Linked DNA regions of Homo sapiens. The protein of the gene in region 1 interacts with the protein of each later gene in a pairwise test. Each region holds a gene or a part of one and is shown on either strand. Other genes may lie near its edges.

The links.
Region 2: the proteins of ARIH2 (region 1) and SOCS6 interact in binary tests that used the Homo sapiens proteins (3 or more experiments, as listed by UniProt).

What each region holds. Positions count from the first base shown.
Region 1 is NC_000003.12:48,970,826-48,977,845, forward strand, and holds part of ARIH2 (E3 ubiquitin-protein ligase ARIH2), read left to right. Parts: exon of another isoform or gene 1-16; intron 17-2,873; coding exon 2,874-2,991; intron 2,992-3,839; exon of another isoform or gene 3,840-3,991; coding exon 3,992-4,042; intron 4,043-4,132; coding exon 4,133-4,154; coding exon of another isoform or gene 4,155-4,223; intron 4,224-7,020.
Region 2 is NC_000018.10:70,284,560-70,292,046, reverse strand, and holds the start of SOCS6 (suppressor of cytokine signaling 6), read right to left. Parts: upstream 3,003-7,487; 5' UTR 2,957-3,002; exon of another isoform or gene 2,755-2,956; intron 2,380-2,754; exon of another isoform or gene 2,180-2,379; intron 2,151-2,179; exon of another isoform or gene 1,323-2,150; intron 1,307-1,322; exon of another isoform or gene 1-1,306. UniProt on the Homo sapiens protein: SOCS family proteins form part of a classical negative feedback system that regulates cytokine signal transduction.

The sequences.
Region 1 (7,020 bases):
GCTGTGCTCCAAGTGGGTAGGTTTATGTCCAGCATCTCATATTCCACTAGGTCTTCAATACATGCTCAGTCTGGAGGCAAGGAAGTGACACAGGTTCTTGGAAAATGTGTTGTGGCTTATGCTACTAGGTCTCATGGCCCAGAGATTGTGTGGGATGTATCTGCCTGCATAGCTAATCACATATTACTGTGTTTGAAAGATATAAACTTGAACATTTTAATCTTTCTCTGTCTTGGCCTTACTTGGCTAATTTTTGTTAAACTAAGTCATAAATATATTCTACATCTACTCAAGGTTCACTTCATTCAGTAGATACCATGGGAATAACTAAAGTTTACCGAAGGCTTACCAGGTGACAGGCACTATCCTGATCACTTACCCTGCATTATCACAACTGTATATGACCCTTATATTCTCTCTTTTTTTGTTGTTTTCTTGAGACGGAGTCTTTCTCTGTAGCCCAGGCTGGAGTGCAGTGGCACATACTTGGCTCACCACAACCTCCGCCTTCCAGGTTCAAGTGATTCTCCTGCCTCAGCCTCCTGAGTAGCTGGGACTACAGGCATGTGCCACCATGCCCAGCTAATTTTTGTATTTTTAGTAGAGACAGGGTTTCACTGTGTTGGCCAGGCTGGTCTCAAACTCCTGACCTCGTGATCTGCCCGCCTTGGGCTCCCAAAGTGCTGGGATTACAGGATTGAGCCAACCGCGCCTAGCCATGACCCTTATATTCTATGAATAAATCAAGGTACAAGGTAAACCTAGTAAATCGTAGAGCCATAATTTAGGCCCAGATCTGTCCTAATCATACCTCCCTGGAATATTCATGGTGGGGCTTCAGAGAAACTACATGGAAAATGTGATGTGTGTGTGTACGCACATGCCTGCATTTCAAGACATTATTGACACCAAAGGTTAAGAATCACTAATGCAGTGGTTCTTTCATTTTAAATCCGGCAGCCCCCAGGATCACAGCAGATTCAGAAGACTCCTTGTAATTGTTCTTTATCCTTGTGTCCCACTTTATGAAATTCTTTCCCTGGGTATTTGCCTGAGGGCCTTTTCTAGCCACAAAGTACTGTTGGCCTCCACAAAAGAAAATTTCAAAATATGGAAGCCTAGCCCGACGAATATTGGAGTGTCTTTTTTTTCTGTTTTAAGTTTCAGTGTCATCAGATGTATCATGACCCTACAGATTTTGCACGTTCTGGCATTTGTGCATTCTTGTGTGCATATCTGACTGGGAGATCCGATGAGACTCCCGGAAGTGGGTCTCAATCCTGCCTTAGGTCTGAGCTAAGGAGTCCTTCTCAGAGCACCTCACCATGCCCTTTGAGAGTCATAGCTCTGTGTTTGACATCTTGGGAGTTGGTAAACAAGATGTTTAAACAAGGTATTTAACATACATATCATAGCTCACTGCAGCCTCAAACCCCTGGGATGAAGTGATCCTTCTGCCTTAGCCTCCCAAGTAACTGAAACTACAGATGCCCAGCTAATTTTTTTAAATTTGTTGTAGGGGCCAAGTGTGGTGGCTCACACCTGTGACCCCAGCTTTAGGACCCCTGTGACTTTAGGAGACTGAGGCGGGTGGATCACCTAAGGTCAGGAGTTCCAAGACTAGCCTGGCCAACATGGTGAAATCATGTCTCTACTAAAGATACAAAAATTAGCCAGGAATAGTGGCAGGAGCCTGTAATCTCAGCTAGTCAGGAGGCTGAGGCAGGAAAATCACTTGAACCAGGGAGGCAGAGGCTGCAGTGAGCCAAGATCATGCCATTGCACTCCAGCCTGGGTGACAAGAGCGAAACTCCATTTCAGAAAAAAAATTGTAGAGACAGGGTCTTCCTATGTTGCCTAGGTTGGTTGGTCTCAAACTCCTGGTCTAAAGCAATCCTTTTTTTAAAAAACAGGGTCTCTCTCAGTTGTCCACGTTGCAGTACAGTGATGCGAACACAGCTCACTGCAGCCTTGACCTCCAGAGCTCAGGCAAATCCTCCTGCCTTAGACTCTCTAGTAGCTGGGACTACAGACACATAGCACTACACCTGGCTAATTTTTTCATTTTTTGTAGAGATGGGATCTCACCATATTGCCCAGGCTGGTTTCAAACTCCTGGGCTCAAGCAGTCCTCCCATCTCAACCTTCCATAGTGCTAGGATTACAAGCATGAATCACTGCACTCGGCCTACAGAAATATTTTATTTGTGCGTGTTAGAGCATGTCTTACAAAGGCTTAAGTTGAAGAGACATTCATGCAGTATTTCAGTATAACTCTGGGTAGGTAAAGGTTCCACAAGCCTTGAGAGATAACTTTACCTATTTGAAAAGCTCTAGGCCGGGCACAGTGGCCCACGCCTGTAATCCCAGCACTTTGGGAGGCTGAGGCGGGCAGATCTCGAGGTCAAGAGATCAAGACTATCCTGGCCAACATGGTGAAACCCCATCTCTACTAAAAATACAAAAATTAGACTGGGCGCGGTGGCTCACGCCTGTAATCCCAGCACTTTGGGAGGCCGAGGTGGGTGGATCACGAGGTCAGGAGATCGAGACCATCCTGGCTAACACGGTGAAACCCCGTCTCTACTAAAAATACAAAAAATTAGCCGGGCATGGTGGCGGGCACCTGTAGTCCCAACTACTCGGGAGGTTGAGTCAGGAGAATGGCATGAACCCGGGAGGCAGAGCTTGCAGTGAACCGAGATCACGCCACTACACTCCAGCCTGGCGACAGAGCAAGACTCTGTCTCAAAAAAAAAAAAAAAAAGAAAAAAGCTCTAATTCATGATTTGTTGGCTTGGATAAAAGGAAAATTTTGAACATGGGACCCTGACTTAATGAATATTTGAATGTTTTTCTTTTCCAATTTTAAGTTTCAAGTGTCGTCAGATGTATCACGCACCCACAGACTGTGCCACAATCCGGAAATGGCTCACGAAGTGTGCAGACGACTCTGAAACAGCCAACTACATTAGTGCTCACACTAAAGACGTAAGGACCGTATTTTACCTCTCATGGATTTGCCCTCCTTAGTGCTGCCCAGGGCCTTGCCTTGGAGATTTGCCATCTGAGAGCAGAATACCCAGAGCCCCAGGACCCTTCCTGAGGACTGGGGGTTTGGGGACCCTCACACAGAGTTGGCAGCTCGTAGCAGTTTATTATAGGATGCATTGGGTGCATATTTTCTTTATTATGATGAAATGCCAAAATGCCAGGAAAGGGGGACCCAAAGGGGGAGCTAATTAGAAGAGAACTAATTATGATTGAACGCCTACCAGCCTTTAACAGCCCTGAAAGGGAGGTGGTTAATAGCCACACTTGATACATATAAGGCTGTAATGCAAGCCCAGACCTGCACGATACTCATTTTGAAGTCTCCCATGGGAAAGTATGGCCTGTGGGCTCTAGGGGCCACTGTACCCTTTGTCAGTCACTCGCCGAGTCAGTGCACTCACAAGCACAGTTACGATAACGACATTATTAAACATAGTCGACTTCACGGCAGTGGGAGATCACAGCATCAGACTGGTGTCTTCATTGCTGCCTCAGGTTGCTGGCATCTCTCAAATGGGAGAGATGAGCTTTAGATGTGGTTTCCTTGCCCTCTTCTCGAAGCAGAAGTTCAGGCAAGCTGACCAGGACTGAATCCATTGTGGCAGCTCCTGTGCTTCTTTGGCAGTCCTCTCAAGAAGGCAGGCTTTCTGCTGATTCAACTTGTGCTTAATCTGAGTAGCTTCATGGCAGGGGCAGATGGTGGAAGACTTAGTGGGGTTCAGCTGGTGCTTGAAGCATTTCAAAGCTAAATGTGCTGACCTCATTTCCTTGAATTGCTGTTCCAGCCTCAGCGACCTGCCACATTTAAGTGAGGTGCTCCTCCCCAGAAGTGCTCACACCATGAGCAACTGGGCACAGGTGCCAGGAGCTTTGTGTAATTTGTCTTAAAACCAACCTGGTGGTGTGTGAGCCTAATGGCACCCTTCTGTCTCCTCAGTGTCCCAAGTGCAACATCTGCATTGAGAAGAATGGAGGCTGCAATCACATGGTGAGCAGAAGCCTCTGCAGTTTGCATGTGTGACATGGAAGCTTTGGTCAGTGTGCCCTTAACGTGTTTTCTTCTGTTTCCCTCTGACAGCAATGCTCCAAATGTAAACACGGTGAGTTCCAAGCTTGGTGTGTAAGGCCCAGTGGCACTTTCTTGTGGTTGGGTCTCCGTTACTATTTAAGTGAGTACTTCTGCCATGAAATGACAAAACATAGAAGAACCTCAGTCACTTAACAGTCACAGTAACTGGCATAAAGTAGCTTTTTATTTTTATTTTCTGTTTTTTGGTCCCTCTTATAATCCCACTGCTATCTTGCTAACACATATAGTCAGAAGTCAAGTTTGGGATAAACCTCATGATCCTCAGTTATCCAAGAAGATGATTTCAGGGTGTTGCTTTCATTTTTTTGCCAAGGCAGGTAAGTAGCTTGGGGCTTATCTGTGCTACGTTGTAGATACCTTTACCAGAAGTAGTAAAATAATGGTTTTCCCTTGCCGTTTTACAAAGTTTCTAGTGGGGGTTTTGATTTAGCCTTTCAGACCTCCTTCATCCATCAGGAATAATTTACATAGCTAGAACCCATGTATGCCATCCGGCCAGGTCAACTGAAGAAACAGAATCCCTTCAAGTAGAAAATATGTCCAAGTGGGTCTTCTACGCAGCTGCTTTGATGCTCAACAGGAGCCCCTGACAGTTTCTTTTTTTTTTTTTTGGGAGAAGGAGTCTCACTCTGTCACCCAGGCTGGAGTGCAGTGGCGCAGTCTTGGCTCACTGCAACCTCCATCTCCTGGGTTCAAGCAGTTCTCCTGCCTCAGCCTTCCAAATAGCTGGGATTACAGGCATCTTCCACCACGTCTGGCTAATTTCTGTATTTTTAGTAGAGATGGGGGTTTGCCATGTTCGAGGCTGGTCTCGAACTCCTGACCTCAGGTGATCTCCCTACCTTGGCCTCCCAAAGTGCTGGGATTACAGGAGTGAGCCACTGTGCCCGACCGAGAATTTTGCTTTGTAAGGGCCTATGCAAATGCTATTTCCAGGAACCCTCTTTTCTTTATTTTTTGAGACAGAGTCTCAGTCTGTCGCCCAGGCTGGAGTGCAGTGGTGTGATCTTGGCTGACTGCAACCTCCACCTCCTGGGTTTAAGCAGTTCTCCCACTTCAGCCTCCTGAGTAGCTGGGATTACAGGCACTCACCACCACACCTGGCTACTTTTTTATATTTTTAGTAGAGACGGGGTCTAACCATGTTAGCCAGGCTGGTGTCCAACTCTTGACCTCAGGTGATCCGCCTACCTTGGCCTCTTAAAGTGCTGGGATTATAGGCATGAGCCACCGAGCCTGTACTTTTTTTTTTTTTTTTCCAAAGATGGAGTTCTGCTCTTGTCGCTCAGGCTGGAATGCAATGGTGTGATCTTGGCTCAATGCAACATCTACCTCCTGGGTTCAAGCGATTCTCACTCCGCCTCCCCAGTAGCTGCTATTACAGGCGCCCACCACCACACCTGGATAATTTTTATATTCTTAGTATAGATGCGGTTTCACCATGTTGGCCAGGCTGGTCTCGAACTTCTGACCCCAGGCAATCCGCCTGCCTCGACCTCCCAAAGTGCTGGGATTACAGGTGTGAGCCACCGCTCCCGGCCCCAGGAGCCCTCTCAATCAGAGTGGTCATGCCAGGATCTTAGACAGCAACATTGACTCTGCAGTGCCAAACGAAGATAGGCCATGGGTAGTGGCATATTTCTTCTGTGGGGCCACATTCTTTCGCTCTCTTTTTCTTTGTATATATCAGAGAGAGAAGTGTATCATACACTTAGAACAATGCAGAAGACACAGAGTTTAAAGAATAATGACAAACATCCCAGCACCCACCACATTCCTAGTGCCTAAGAAGCCCCCTGGGTGTCCATATCCCTTGACACCCAGAGTTCACTGCCATCTCACGAGAATCACTTGAACCCCGGAGGTGGAGGTCACAGTGAGCCGAGATTGTGCCACTGAACTCCAGCCTGGGCGATAGAGCGAGACTCTGTCTCAAAAAAAAAAAAACTGGCTGGGCGCGGTGGCTCACGCCTGTAATCCCAGCACTTTGGGAGGCCGAGGTGGGCGGATCATGAGGTCAGGAGATCGAGACCATCCTGGCTAACATGGTGAAACCCCATCTCTACTAAAAAAAAATACAAAATTAGCCAGGCGCAATGGCGCACTCCTGTAGTCCCAGCTATTCGGGAGGCTGAGGCAGGAGAATCGCTTGAACCAGGGAGGTGTAGGTTGCAGTGAGCCAGGATCGCACCACTGCACTCCAGCCTGGGCAACAGAGTGAGACTCCGTCTCAAAAACAAACAAACAAACAAAAAACTGCCATCTCTTTCTTTGCTGTATGTTTTATACCACCTATATGGGCAACCGTAGGGAATGTGGTTTTTTGTTTTGTTTTGTTTCGTTTTTTGAGATGGAGTCTCACTCTGTCACCCAGGCTGACAGGCTGAGTGCAGTGGTGCGATCTCGGCTCACTGCAACCTCCACCTCCCAGGTTCAAGCAATTATCCTTGCTCGGCCTCCTGAGTAGCTGGAACTGCAGGCACATGCCACCATACCCAGCTAATTTTTGACAGAGTCTCACTCTGTCGCCTGGGCTAGAGTGCAGTGGTGCGATCTCGGCTCACTGCAACCTCCGCCTCCTGGGTTCAAGCGATTCTCCTGCCTCAGCCTCCCAAGTAGCTGAGATTACAGGCGTCCGCCACTATACCCAGCTAATTTTTTGTATTTTTGGTAGAGACGGGGTTTCACCTTGTTGGCCATGCTGGTTGTGAACTCCTGATCTCATGATTAGCCCACCTTGGCCTCCCAAAGTGCTTGGATTACAGGCGTGAGGCACCGTGCCCGGCCTGTATTGTTCTTTAAAATGGTAGCAAGCACACCTAGCTAATTAAGGAGAGGGCATTGTTGCCACTATTAGGTGAAGGCTCCCAGGAGGA
Region 2 (7,487 bases), on another chromosome or scaffold:
TAAACTGTGTCCTCAGCCCTAAAGCCATCACGACTTATTAGCTAAACCAACACGCCAAACAGCATAATAAATTACCCATAAAAACATTAATGACAATTTCACTTCAAAACAATATCAAACACATCTTACGTTGTTCCTCTTTTAACAGCTGAACAATTATTTCTATCAATCTAGCCATATAAGAAAGTTTCTCCTTTTTATGACATATACTAGTATTTGGAATTTCTCCCTTGTAAAATGAATAATTTTACAAAAGTACTTCGGCACCACAGATGTAAATATAATTTCCAGAATTGGAAGAGGTCACGAGTGCATATTTTTAAGAGAATAACAATAATTGAGTCCCAATAAGCCCATGATAAATTGAAAATATCTTAAAGTCAAAACTCACAGTGGGTTTATCTGGATGTAAGTCGAAGTGCATACTAAATGTGTATCGTTTTTGCTCCATCAAAAAGTCAAAAAGTCCAAAATTGGGGACCATCTATATGTTTGGACTTTTAAATAAGATCACACCTCTATGAGCAAAATAAAAGATATGATCAATAACCCAAAAGTTTCCTGAAAACTGGCCATAATGGAGAAAACTAGCAAGATTTTTCTCTAAGGAGTGTAGTTACACAAGAAGGCTTAAGAGGACACTTGCAGGCTGGGTGTGGTGGTTCGTGCCTGTAATCCCAGGGCTTTGGGAGGCTGAGGTGAGAGGATCTTGAGGCCTAGAGTTTGAGACCAGCCTCGGCAACACAGCAAGACCCCACCTCTCCAAAAAACAATCAGCCAGGTGTGGTGGCACATGTCTGTGGTCCAAGCTACTCAGGAGGCTGAGGGAGGTGGATCACTTGAGCCCAGGAGTTCAAGGCTGCAGTGAGCCATGATTGCACCACTGCACTCCACCCTGGGTGACAGAGGAAAAACAAAAAAGAAGATACTTGCTTTCTGTTTCCTAAAAAAAGGGGGGCCATTAAAAGAACACCTTTTCCAGTTCTAATGCAAGAATGAAGAAAAACACTGGAAGGCAAAATGACTAGAAACCCAGTCAGTACAGCACCATTTTCCACCCTACGCCCAGTCAATGGCTCTCAAATTCCTTCCCTGCCACTCCCTGCGGGGTGGGGGGCCCACCAAGAGAGGGGGTCATGGGATGACCCGAGGGTGTGCGCTTGGGTGGGAGGCCCTGCTGAAGAGAAAGGGGCAAGACTACCAATTTAGAGGGTAATTTAGAAGATAACGATAAAGGTAAGAGAGAAACAGTGTTTCAAAAGAGATGCTGAATGGAGTTCTAAAAAAGTATAGATTCGGGTGAATACCTGGCTGACCCTTACCCAGGCACAAGCGGAAAGCCCTGGCCAAACTCCAGATAGAAGTTCTTCTAGGAATCCTTATCAAATCCACTGTCCACGAACCAGGTTCCTCCAAGGCACCAAGGCAGGCTTAGGGAGGGTGTTTGAACCAAAGGGTTAAGGCCACATATTTAATTTAGAGCTGAATGGATCCTAGACCTTACCATATCCACGCGTGCACAAAACCCACTAGGAGGAGAAATTAGAAAGCCCACGGAAAAGTATTACAGACTTTTTTTCCGGTTTTTGTGAAACCTGGTGAGCAATGCCATTCGTGTTTTTAAGTAAGGCTGTCCACAGCATTAAATATTACAATTAAGATTCGTTCATTCAAGTAAGCTAAATGGATTTAATGTTGTGGTAGTTGGTTAAAAACAAGTCAAGATAAATTGCTACCTTCAGTGGTTGAGAAGATGTCAGATATTTTATCTTGAAGTAGAACGTTTACTTTTGTTTGATTCCAAATGTATCTTTATCCCAAGGAACACAGTAAATTTAAAATGTCTCTGGGAGACGTTCAGTGTGTAATTCACGTTATTTCTGTCATTACTGTGTTCTCTGTCCTCATGCACAGTGCATGCTGCCTTATCCGGGCAGACGTTGCAGAAACATTTGTTGAAATGAATTCAACATTATTTATTTTGCTACCGGAAGACTGAGTCCCGCCACATATTCCCACCTGGCCCTTCATTCCAAACAGTGGGGATGGGAACCCCAATTTCACATTCCAACTGAACGTTAAGTTGGCACACACACTACTGCACATATCCCAAGTTTTGTGCCAGGATCTGCCCCTGAGAAACGTCCATAATTCTGCTCCGTGAGCCACAAGGGTGTACCTGAAGTTGCCAACTCCCGAAGCAAACTGAAAATTCAGGCCCGTGTCGGTCCCAGGAGCGGTTTAAATTCCACAATCGTCCGGTCCCTACACCCGGGTGAGTGCGCAGCCGGCCGGCGGCACCTTCAGCCGCAGAGCAGCCCCGGCCTGCACCTCCACCAGCGCCGGCGCGACCTCGCGGTGGGGCGGGGGCGTCCCCGAGTCCCAGCGCCGCGCCCCAGGCCCGCCCTCGCGCCTGCGGCCTCGCCGCGCCCCGACCCCGAGCCCGAGCCCGAGCCCGCGGAGGTCCGAGGAGGGACCCGGCCGGGGCGCAGAGCCGCGCAGGCCCCGCGCCGCTGCCCAGGCCTCGCGGAGCCCCGGCCTCTCCCCGGCGAGCTGCGGGCAACAAAGGCGGCGGCCCAGGCCGGCGCGCCGCGGCCGAAGAGGCCGAGGGGTCGAGAAGAGCCGTCCGCGGCCGCGCAGGCCTCGGCCCTTCAGGGGCCGCCGCGCCCCGGCCCCGGCTTCCCGGTTTCCGCGTCCCCGCTCCCGGGACTGGCCCCGGCCCCCGTTCCCCGGCCCTGGCCCCCGCCCGCGCACCCGCCGAGACGGCGCAGGGCCTCGCGCTGACCCAGACCCGTCGCTGCAGCCCCGCGCCCGGCGGCCTCCCTGGCCCGGCCCGCGCCGGATCCGCCCCCTGCACTCCGAGGCGAAAACCAGCCGTGTCCCGGACCGCGGGCGACCCGGAGGCGGACGGCGAAGCCCTGCCCCTGCCTCCCGCCCGAGCTCCCCGGACGCTTACCCGGAGGCGGCCCGGCTCCGCTTCCTCGCCCAGCGCCGGCGCGACTGCCGCGCTCGCCTTCTCCTCTCGGCAACTCCTCCTCCCGCCTCCTTCCTCCTCCTCCTCCAGGAGGGGCGCGCGGCCGCGGCGCCTCGGCCCGAGCGGGGAGCGGGTGCGGAGGAGCCGAGCGGGCCGCCCCCCGTCCACTACTCGGGCCCGCGGCGCAGGCGGGGCGTCGGGGCGCGCGGGGCTGAGGCCGGGGGCCGCGCGGGGCGGGGCGGGGGCCGGGCACTAAGTGGGGGTTCCGAGGGGAGGGGCGCCGGGCCGGGGTCGTGGGGCGGACGGAGCGCGGAGCCCTGATCCCTTCCCCCACCCCCGCGCCCCTCCGCTGGTGCCTGCAGGAGGCCGCTCCTCCGGCCCCCAGAGTCCCTGTCCTGGTTTTTCCTTTGGTGCTTTCCCTCTGGCGGGGGTGGCCCCGGCTAACGCGGAAAGGAAAGTCTCCTCGTTCCCCGGCCCCGCGGATTTGGCGGCTGCGGTCCCTGTCCCCCTGTGGCGGGCGGTCGGACCCCCGCACTGCCCAGGTCCGCTGGGCTCGCGCGGGGACCCCGGCCTCGTCCCCGCAGGGAGGGGACCCCAGGACAGACGCGCGCGCACGCTGTGCAGAGCCACAAGTGGGGAAACCCTCCCCACACCTCGACTAAATTGTGAAAAATGCTTTTTAAAAAACCAAACATTCCTTGTTTCAAGCCATCCACTTTTCCATTTAGTCGTTTTCAGGGAGGTTTTGTACAAGGAATAGTTGTTTGTGCCGCCGAATTCCAAGGTAGTGTGGTATACAAGTTGCATGTTGGGATCTTGACTAATTTCTTTGGAAACTGGCTGAACATACTACTAATGTATAGCAGTACCACAAAAACTTGATTTTTGTGCATAAGAATCAATAGGAAAATTTGTATTTCTCTTACGATGAAAAGTGGTTAAAAAAATGAATATCATTAGTATTTCAGTAAAGCTTGGGGGGAGATAAATATTAAAATCTAATGAGAATTATTGTGGACTTTAAAAGTTGTGTTTCTTGAATAGTATGGACCTTTTTAAAAGAAAACCGAAAGGACAGAGAAAAAAGGGCTAGAAAAAAAGTCTAAAAAGCTGTTCAGGTATGAGTTGGTACCCGAATTATATCTCAATAAAGTTGTTAGTTACAAAAAAGTTCAAGTCCAGTAATCTTAATTCCTATGTCCAATATACAATCTGGATTTCCCCAAGAAATCTAGATTCATAACAGAAAAGTTGGATCTTTAGGTGATGCAAAGTTGATGTCATGTATCATACACTATCATTGTCATCTTCAGTTTTTACTTGAATTTATTAATAAAATACTACCATTATTGTTACCGTGATTGAAATGCAACACAATTCTCAAATATCTAATTACAGTGATTGGAGAATGTAGGTTGAAATAGAATTGTCAGAGAAGTTAGTGGGAAACACAACAAACAGTAATTAACGGTGGCTCATGCCTGTAATCCCAGCACTTTGGGAGGCCGAGGCGGGCGGATCACAAGATCAGGAGATCGAGACCTGCCTGGCCAACACAGTGAAACCCCATCTCTACTAAAAATACAAAAAGTAGCTGGGCGTGGTGGCAGCTGCCTGTAATCCCAGCTACTCAGGAGGCTGAGGCAGGAGAATCGTTTGAACCCGGGAGGCGGAGGTTGCAGTAAGCCGAGATCGCACCACTGCACTCCAGCCTGGGTGACAGAGCTAGATGCCGTCTCAAAAAAAAAAAAAAGAAAAGAAGCAAACGTTTCAATCCTACTGCCTCGGAGTTCCAGTGTCTCCCTATATTTTCTAAAATGACAACCAGTAGGAGCTGTGCAGCAGGGGGTTAGTGAGCCTTTCACGCAGCAATGGGGCTGTGCAGGATGGGGAAGTGTTGACTCTTTTAGGAGACACTTAAATGTATGGTTAAGACCCTGGGGTTCTGAGTCTGGCAGAGCTGGTGCAGAAGCACAGTTTTGACAGGTCATACAGCTGTGTGACCTCAAACAAGTTTCTCAGTTGGAACCTCAGTTTCTACTTTTGTAAAGGGTGAGTGAGGGGGCTCGATATTAATTATGTCAAATAGTTGTAAGATTACATGAAATAATGCACAAAAACCCCTAGGGGCCTAATCTAGGTAATAAAACTTCATGAGTCCGGCCTTGCATTCAGCTCTTTTGAATATGTCATATCCTTCAATTTTCATATCAATCCTATAAGGTCAGTATTAACATCACCGCCATATTTCTGATGAGGAAACTGAGACTTGCAGTGTGATAGTAGTAATTTACTCTCCCAAAGTCACAGCTACTGTGGGGCAGAGTTGGAATTCAGGCTTAGGCCTCTGTGATTTCAGAATATGAGCCCTTTACCACTACATAGTGATAACAATAACATAGCAACAACTTCAGGGTAGAGATATTAGTGTCTAGATATACTATTAAAATCTCCATGCATGGCTGAATTCCAAACACTTCTTGGCCATAAACATGTGATATCTTCTTGGCTGTCTGCCAATGAACCCTTTTTTCCATCAGCACTCACTCTCCGTTTGGAGGAAATCTTATCTTTGCCCTAACAACACCCAGCACAGCTAAGATATGTGCCCATGACTCACCTACTTAAACTCTTGCCTAGGCCAGACAGGGAGGCTTACACCTGTAATCCCAGCACTTTGGGAGGCCAAGGCGGGAGGTTCACTTGAGGCCAGCGATTCGAGACCAGCCTGGGCAACATGGCCAGATGTCATCTCTACAAAAAATTAAAATATTAGCAGGGCGTAGTGGCATGGAGGTGGGAGGATCACTTAAGCCCAAGAGTTCCAGGTTGCAGTGAGCTATGAACATGCCACTACACTCCAGCCTGGGCAATAGAGCAAGACTCTGTCTACAAAAAGAACCAGGCTGGGCGCAGTGGCTCACACCTGTAATCCCAGCACTTTGGGAGGCCAAAGCCAGTGGATTACTTGAGCCAGGGAATTTGAGACCAGCCTGGGCAACGTGGCAAAACCCTGTCTCTACTAAAAATACAACAATTAGCTGGGCGTGATGGCGCATGCCTATAGTTCCAGCTGTTCAGGAGGCTGAGGCTGGAGGATTGCTTGAGCCCAGGAGGCAGAGGTTGCAGTGAGCCACTATCATGCTACTGCACTCCATTCTGAGCAACAGTGCGAAACTCTATCTCAATAAACAAGCAAGCAAGCAAGCAAGAAAGGAAAAGAAACCAGAAAAGAAAGAAAAGAAAAGAAAAGAAAAGAAACTCTTGTCCAGATGCTTACTGTTGTGCAAGTGATATAATCATGGAAAGCTCCTGGAAGAGGATGGGATCACATCTACTGTAATAAGGTACCTGCACCAAATTGATCCTGGTGCCAGTCCCCAAAGCCTTCTAATAAATCCCTGTTTTGCTCAAGATAACCAATTTCTGTTGTTTACCGTTACAAATGCTGTCTGATAGATATGCTTGTTAAAAAATGGGGATAGCCACTGGTCATATTGAAAATCTATCCTCTTAACAGTGACAGGGGAGCACAGTTCCACTGCTTCCTCCTAGAGCAATAGCTTATAGAGCCAGAAGCACCCTTAATGATCATCCTCAACATCCTCTTTTTACAGACATGAAAACAGTCCAACATCCTCATTTTAAGGAGGAGGAAACAGACTGAGAGATCAAATGATTTGCCCAAAGTGACAAAGTTTTGACATTTCCCAATTTTGAGTCTTGTTTGATTTCTAATATTAAACCTCTTCCCTTCATCTAAAAGGGGAAAAAGAGAAGTCTAGACTTGAGAAAACTGGGTGGAAGCTGGGTGGGTTACAGTGTGCAGCCTTCCATCCTAGTCCTGGTGATTCAAGTACAGTCATACCTCACTTAACGAAAGTGCTATGTTCTGAGACAAGCATTACTAGGTGATTTCGTCCTTGTGCTAACATGATAGACTGTATTTACACAAACCTAGAGGTAGCCTACTACACACCTAGAATAATAGGGTATAGCCTGTTGCTTCTAGGCTACAGACCTGTACTGCATGCTACTGTACTGAATTATGTAAGCAAATGGTAACCCAATGGTATTTGTGTATCTAAACATATTTAAACATAGAAAAGGTTCAGTAAAGATACAGCATTATAATCTTACAATGGGATCACAGTCATGTATGCCATTGACCAAACCATTATTCGGTGCGTGACTGTACATCCTTAGTGCTAAAAGCACTCTCGGGGCCCTGTGAAAAGCTGCAAAGCAAGCAAAATTTACCACCCTCCACTTCCTTCCCTCCCTCCCATTGCCGTTCTGCTGTTCCTGCCTTCCTGTCTTGATGGTTTAGGCGCCATACTCCACACACACAAATTTCCCTTGCATGGTACTTGTCCTGGGTTACATAATGTCCTCCAAAGAAGCGTGTCCTTTCCAGAACCTTAGAATGTGACTTTGTTGGAAGTGGGATCTTTGCCACTGTTAAGTTGAAATGAGGTCCTGCTGGGATAGAGTGGGCCCTTAAATCCAATGT